Linked DNA regions of Homo sapiens. The protein of the gene in region 2 purifies or fractionates together with the protein of the main gene of each other region. This does not show direct contact. Each region holds a gene or a part of one and is shown on either strand. Other genes may lie near its edges. The genes, in order: HCK and CCR3.

Region 1 (3,816 bases), on a different chromosome or scaffold from region 2:
AGCCTGGAAGAAGGAGAGAGAAACAGCTAAGAGCCCCCAGTTCCATGATCACTAAGAAGGGGTGACATAATTGTTTTTTTTTGACAGAGTATCGCTCTTGTCCCCCAGGCTGGAGTGCAGTGGCATGATATTTCAGCTCACTGCAACCTCTGCCCCCTGGAGTCAAGTGATTCTCCTGCCTCAGCCTCCCGAGTAGCTGGGACTACAGGCACGCACCACCACACCCAGCTAATTTTTTTTGTATTTTTAGTAGAGATGGGGTTACACCTTGTTGGTCAGGCTGGTCTCGAACTCCTGACCTCAGGTGATCTGCGTGCCTTGGCCTCCCGAAGTGCTGGGATTACAGGTGTGAGCCACCATGCCCAGCCAGAAGGAGGTGGCTTTATAATGGGAAAAGCCTAAGCGTTTTCATTTTTAACAGGCAAGCATCCCAAACCCATAATACCATCTAGCTAGAAAGAGGAGGCAGAAGAGACAAAACAATGGGGACTGTCATTTGTCAACTTTTGATTGGCTGGTTTTTAATGGGATGTATTGCCACCCCACAATGTAGTCATCTTTTTACTCATCAACCTCATCCACCATACAGAGAACATCTCCAGCAGGGAGCCCCATCTAAGTCATCTTCTAACCCTGGAATAGGGAATCAACAGGTATCTGTTGGATGATGGATGGATGGATGGATGGATGGATGGATGGATGAATGGATGGATGGATGGATGGATGACTGAAGTATATTTTTAGAGTCAAGCTAGACACAAGAAGAACCCACAGCCAAGAACGATGGGTTATGGAGAGCTCCTTGAGGGTAGGGATATATCTTATTTGTTTCCACAGCCCCTTAGGCTGGCACAGGGCTTGAAGAGTCATGAGCATGTGCTTGTCGAATGAATCAAATGAGGGATGGGCCAGGTGCAGTGGTTCAGGCCTATAATCCCAGCATTTTGGGAGGCTGAGGCGAGAAGATCACTTGAGCCCAGGAGTTTGAGACCAGCCTGGGCAACACAGAGAGACCCCCTCTCTACCAAAAATACAAAAAAGAAAAAAATTAGCTGGGCATGGTGATGCGCACTTGTAGTCCCAGCTACTTGGGAGGCTGAGGTGGGAGGATCAACTGAGCCCAGGGAGGCTGAGGCTGAAGTGAGCTGTGATGGTGCTACTGCATTCCAGCCTGGGCAACAGAGTGAGACCCTGTCTCAAAACAAAACAAAACAACAAATGAGGGACGACTGGCCAGGTGTGAGCTGTCTCACCTCTCCAGAAACCCTCCTTGGCAAGACCGTGTGCTTCATTCAACAATATTTATTGAGCACTGACTGCATGCCAGCCTGTGCCGAGGATGCAGAAGCAGACAAAGTCCCCGCTCTCACCAGCTCTCTTCCTTGCAGGGCAGGCAGAGAATGCACGTGTAACCAACCAAAGAAACCAGGTCGTTTTGCTAGTAAAACATGTTCAGAAGGGATTAAAACAGGTTTCCACAAGACAGAGTCACAGCTGGGACCCACTTTAGCCTCTCTTCCCTGACTGGAAGGATGAAACCTGAAGGAAGAGAAGGAGCCAGCCAAGCCCAGAGCCCTGGGAAGAGTATGTGCCAGGCAGTGGTACAGTGTGTGCAGACGTCCTGAGTTGCAAACAAGGCTGGCTTTGCTCATGCCTCTTTCTGGAAGGTAGGAAATAGGATACTTACTCCTCTGTCTCCAGAGAGTCAACGCGGGCGACATAGTTGCTTGGGATGTAGCCCTCCTTCCGGGTGGCCAGGGATCGAGCCTTCCACCACTCCCCGGATCTGAGGGACATGAGGGAGTAAAGGTGTTAGGGACAGAAGGATCATTCTCCAGTCTCCTCAAGCTCCCCAGCCTTGACCTAGAAAACTCCCTGCCTCCAGAAAGCCAGTAGGGTGAAGGACAGGGCTGTGACTATGTCAGCCCCAGCATGTGGCCATGATTAGGGTAGGGATCCTTACAACAGTTCCTGCTGTGCATCTGAGGGTCTGGAATCTCCCTGTCCACAGCCCAGAGCCCTGGGTCTCTGGCTCCACTCCTTTTCCCTGGACTTGCAGCTTTGGTCTTATTAGCTATACCCATGGCAGGGTCCTGTGCCTATAGAGACTCAGAATGGTTCAGCTGGGGCTGAGAATAGGGGAGAGTGGGCTTGGGAGTCCGACCAGGCATGACCACTCCCGTTCTCGGGCTTCAGCACATCCTGGACACTATACCCATGATGGTGAAGGCTGTAGGAGATCCGAGGTGGCAAACTCAGAGATCCAAGGATTTCCAAATGCAAGGTCGACTCGATGGGGCCTGGTCCACAGGTAAAGCCGGTGGCTTAATCGCAGGAGCCCTAGAAAGGCTTCCCTGAGAAAGCGTCACCTGTTCATCTCAGGCTGGACGTGCACTCTCAGTAAGTGCACAATCCCCTTCATCCAGGTTGACAGCAAACCCTTCCTCCACTATTGTGATTAGCTTCTCATTAGACATTTATACCCAGGATAAGATAGCCCATCTATCAGGTTCTTTATGGAAGCACAAAAGAGCACATAGTTGAGTAGAGGAGGCAGGTCTGTCTTAGGGGGAGTGGGATGGGGACTCACTCCTCTAGGACCACCATCTGGTCCCCCTTCTGGAAGCTGAGGTCTTCGTGGTGAATGGCCTCGTAATCATACAGGGCAACCACGATGATGTCCTCAGAGCCTGCTGGGAAGGGAGACACACAGAGGGTGAGGTTTCGTCTAAGTGCATCCACAGCCCTTGGTGACCCTCACCCGGCACCTGGAACAGCTCCGCACCCATCGATATGTGGTTCCAAGTATAAGTAGGCGTCTCACCATGCTGGGTGTGATTCTCAAGTTTAAAGCTAAATATGTTTTGTTCATGTTACTAAACAGCGTTCTAGAAACACAATAGCCTGCGCAAAGCACTTCAGAGGAAATTTTGGGGATTCTCGACAGGGGTTTGACTGTTTGGGATTTATGCCTCAAGCTAAGGGAGAACCTAGCGGAGTCCTCTGCAGGACACATGACTCCACTGCATCTGCTCGTAGATACTTACCCTCCCTGATTCCTGGTGTGTTGCTGTTGTGGCTATTAGGCCCCTGTGGGGAAGAAATGAGAGAAGAGAATGAATCTGACCAATGTGTGGGGACCCGTGGAAGGTCTGTGTTGAGAAGGACACCCAAGAGCATCTTACCCTAGCCCTGCATGTCGTGGGAGGAGGCCCACATACGGCAGGGGACATGCCTGGCACCACACGGCACATTAGGGGCAGAGCCAGCAAACAAAATGGTCCAGATTTTTTGTTGTTGCTGTTGTTTGAGATGGAATCTCACTCTGTCACCCAGGCTGGAGTGCAGTGGCGTGATCTCAGCTCACCGAAACCTCCACCTCTCGGGTTCAAGTGATTCTCCTGCCTCAGCCTCCCAAGTAGCTGGGATTACAGGCGCATGCCACCATGCCTGGCTAATTTTGTATTTTTAGTAGAGATGGGGTTTCACCATGTTGGCCCGGCTGGTCTAGAACTCCTGACCTCCCAAAGTGCTGGGATTACAGGAGTGAGCCACTGTGCCCAGCCAGGATCCAGGTTTCTTGAGCTGTGACCTCGGCCTTCGGTCTTGGATGTACCGGGGGATGCTGCTTGACCCCTCCCCTCAACACACAGTGAAGGGGTCGGTCCAGATCAGTGTTTTCCGACTAAGTTTGGAGAAATCACAGGCCCACCAGTGATTTATATTCCATAAATAAAGGCTCTGTTATGTATGTGAAACAATCTAAGTGTCCATGCAAGGGGGAAGTGACACCTAAACTATGGCATTCTAAGCAGC
Region 2 (3,816 bases):
AGATATTTTAACCAAATTATCTGCTTCCCTGACTATTCCTGGACTATAGCCGCATCTCATTGCTGCCCTTCTTCCCAATCCAAAGCCTCCTTTGCGTCCTCTTCTTGTATTCCCCCACCTTAACCCACAAGTATAAGATACCTCTACTCCCTCCTTGGCGACCAATCATGCTCCCCTTACCATCTCGTTAAAACCTAATCACCCTTACCCTGCTCAATGCCAAGATCCCATCCCACAGCACGCTTTAAAAGGATTAAAGCCTGTTATCACTCGCCTGCTAAGGCATGGCCTTTTAAAGCCTATAAACTCTCCTTACCATTCCCCCATTTTACCTGTCCTAAAACCAGACAAGCCTTACAAGTTAGTTCAGAATCTGCACCTTATCAACCAAATTGTTTTGCCTATCCACCCCGTGGGGCCAAACCCATATAACCTCCTATCCTCAATACCTCCCTCTACTACCCATTATTCTGTTCTGGATCTCAAACATGCTTTCTTTACTATTCCTTTGCACCCTTCATCCCAGCCTCTCTTTGCTTTCACTTAGACTGACCCTGACACCCATTAGGCTCAGCAAATTACCTGGGCTGTACTGCCACAAGGTTTCACAGACAGCCCCCATTACTTCAGTCAAGCCCAAATTTCATCGTCATCTGTTACCTATCTCGGCATAATTCTCATAAAAACACACGTGCTCTCCCTGCTGATCCTGTCCGATTAATCTCCCAAACCTCAATCCCTTACAAAACAACAACTCCTTTCCTTCCTAGGCATGGTTAGTGCAGTCAGAATTCTTACACAAGAGCCAGGACTGCACCCTGTAGCCTTTCTGTCCAAACAACTTGATCTTACTGTTTTAGCCTAGCCCTCATGTCTGCATGCAGCAGCTGCCACTGCTTTAATACTTTTAGAGGCCCTAAAAATCACAAACTATGCTCAACTCACTCTCTACATTTCTCATAACTTCCAAAATCTATTTTCTTCCTCATACCTGATGCATATACTTTCTGCTCCTTGGCTCCTTCAGCTGTACTCACTCTTTGTTAAGTCTCCCACAATTACCATCATTCCTGGCCCGGACTTCAGTCCAGCCTCCCACATTATTCCAGAAACCACACCTGACCCTCATGACTGTATCTCTCTGATCCACCTGACATTCACCCCATTTCCCCATATCTCCTTCTTTCCTGTTCCTCACCCTGATCATGCTTGATTTATTGATGGCAGTTCCACCAGGCCTAATCACCACACACCAGCAAAGGCAGGCTATGCTATAGTACAAGCCACTAGCCTGCCTCTTAGAACCTCTCATTTCCTTTCCATTGTAGAAATCTATCCTCAAGGAAATCACTTCTCAGTGTTCCATCTGCTATTCTATGTGCTATTCTACTACTCCTCAAGGATTATTCAGGCCCCCTCCCTTCCCTACACATCAAGCTCGAGGATTTGCCCCTGCCCAGGACTGGCAAATTAGCTTTACTCAACATGCCCTGAGTCACAAAAACTAAAATACCTCTTAGTCTAAGTAGACACTTTCACTAGATAGGTAGAGGCCTTTCCTACAGGGTCTGAGAAGGGCACCGCAGTCATTTCTTCCCTTCTGTCAGACATAATTCCTCAGTTTAGCCTTCCCACCTCTATACAGTCTGATAACAGACCAGCCTTTATTAGTCAAATCAGCCAAGCAGTTTTTCAGGCTCTTAGTATTCAGTGAAACCTTTATATCCCTTATAGTCCTCTGTCTTCAAGAAAAGTAGAACGGACTAAAGGTCTTTTAAAAACACACCTCACCAAGCTCAGCCACCAACTTAAAAAGAACTGGACAATACTTTCACCACTTTCCCTTCTCAGAAGTCAGACCTGTCCTCGGAATGCTATAAGGTACAGCCCATTTAAGTTCCTGTATAGATGCTCCTTTTCATTAGGCCCCCAGTCTCATTCCAGACACCGGACCACCTTAGACTGTGCCCCAAAAAAACTTGTCATCCCTACTATTTTCTATCTAGTCATACTCCTGTTCTCTGTTCTCAACTACTCATACATGCCCTGCTCTTGTTTACACTGCCAGTTTACACTGTTTTTTCAAGCCATCACAGCTGATATCTCCTCGTGCTATCCCCAAACCGCCGCTCTTAACTCTTGAAGTAAATAAATAATCTTTGCTGGCAGGACTATGCTGAATCTCCTTAGGCACTCTCTAATCAGATGTCCTAGGTCCTCCCGATTCTTAGACCTTTTATACCTGTTTTTCTCCTTCTCTTATTCCATTTAGTTTTTCAATTCATACAAAACCATATCCAGGCCATCACCAATCATTCTATACGACAAATGTTTCTTCTAACATCCCCACAATATCACCCCTTACCACAAGACCTCCCTTCAGCTTAATCTCTCCCACTCTAGGTTCCCACGCCGCCCCTAATCCCGCTTGAAGCAGCCCTGGGAAACATCGCCCATTCTCTCTCCATACCACCCTCCAAAAATTTTCGCCACCCCAACACTTCAACACTATTTTGTTTTATTTTTCTTATTAATATAAGAAGGCAGGAATGTCAGGCCTCTGAGCCCAAGCCAAGCTATCCCATCCCCTGTGACTTGCACATATACGCCCAGATGGCCTGAAGTAACTGAAGAATCACAAAAGAAGTGAATATGCCCTGCCCCACCTTAACTGATGACATTCCACCACAAAAGCAGTGAAAATGGCCGGTCCTTGCCTTAAGTGATGACATTACCTTGTGAAAGTCCTTTTCCTAGCTCATCCTGGCTCAAAAATCACCCCCACTGAGCACCTTGCGACCCCCACTCCTGCCCGCCAGAGAACAAACCCCCTTTGACTGTAATTTTCCTCTACCTACCCAAATCCTATAAAACGGCCCCACCCTTATCTCCCTTCGCTGACTCTCTTTTCGGACTCAGCCCGCCTGCACCCAGGTGAAATAAACAGCCATGTTGCTCACACAAAGCCTGTTTGGTGGTCTCTTCACACGGACACGCATAAAAGCAAGTAGCCACCATAGTGGACAGTACAGGCCTAGTGTCCAGCATGATGCCTGACAAATGAAAGATGCTTAATAAACTCTTCTTAAGTGTATGAAAGGATGGAGTAGAATAATTTTTACTCTGCTTTGCACTGTCCAGACTACACATCTGAAATATTATGTTCTGTTCCAGGCACCAAATTTTAAGAGGGTTAGTATCAACCTAGACTATAGAAGGAAGTAGGATGATAACAGTCCCAAAACATCAGCCATAGTTGGCAGAACTTGGAATGTTTTGTATGAAAAATAATAGCCTTTGCATGAAATCAAACTAAATGCCCATCAATGACAGATTGGATAAAGAAAATGTGGTACATATACACATGGAATACTATGCAGCCATAAAAAAACAGATAGTGTCTTTTGCAGGAACATGGATGGAGCTAGAAGCTATTATCCTTAGCAAACTAATGCAGGGAAAAAACCAAATACGACATGTTCTGACTTATAAGTGGGAGCTAAATGATGAGAACTCATGAACACAAAGAAGAGAACAACAGACACAGGGGTCTACTTGAGAGTGGGAGGAGGGAGAGGAGCAGAAAAACAAGTATTGGCTACTAGGCTTAATACCTGGGTGATGAAATAATCTGTACAACAAACCCCCATGGCACGAGTTTACCTACGTAACAAAGCTTCACATGTACCCCCAAACCTAAAATAAAAGTTAAAAAAAAGGAAAATAATCATATTTGGATTCATTTTAGGTTTTGTTTTGTTTTGTTTTGTTTTTGTATGCCTTTGGTCTGGATCAAAGTTTTTTTTTTTAATTAAA

Evidence for each region.
Region 1: the proteins of CCR3 (region 2) and HCK purify together in Homo sapiens (affinity purification with western blotting, with the first as the bait; one study listed by BioGRID). This does not show direct contact.

What each region holds. Positions count from the first base shown.
Region 1 is NC_000020.11:32,072,593-32,076,408, reverse strand, and holds part of HCK (tyrosine-protein kinase HCK), read right to left. Parts: intron 3,091-3,816; coding exon 3,048-3,090; intron 2,694-3,047; coding exon 2,591-2,693; intron 1,787-2,590; coding exon 1,688-1,786; intron 1-1,687. UniProt on the Homo sapiens protein: Non-receptor tyrosine-protein kinase found in hematopoietic cells that transmits signals from cell surface receptors and plays an important role in the regulation of innate immune responses, including neutrophil, monocyte, macrophage and mast cell functions, phagocytosis, cell survival and proliferation, cell adhesion and migration.
Region 2 is NC_000003.12:46,245,460-46,249,275, reverse strand, and holds part of CCR3 (C-C chemokine receptor type 3), read right to left. Parts: intron 1-3,816.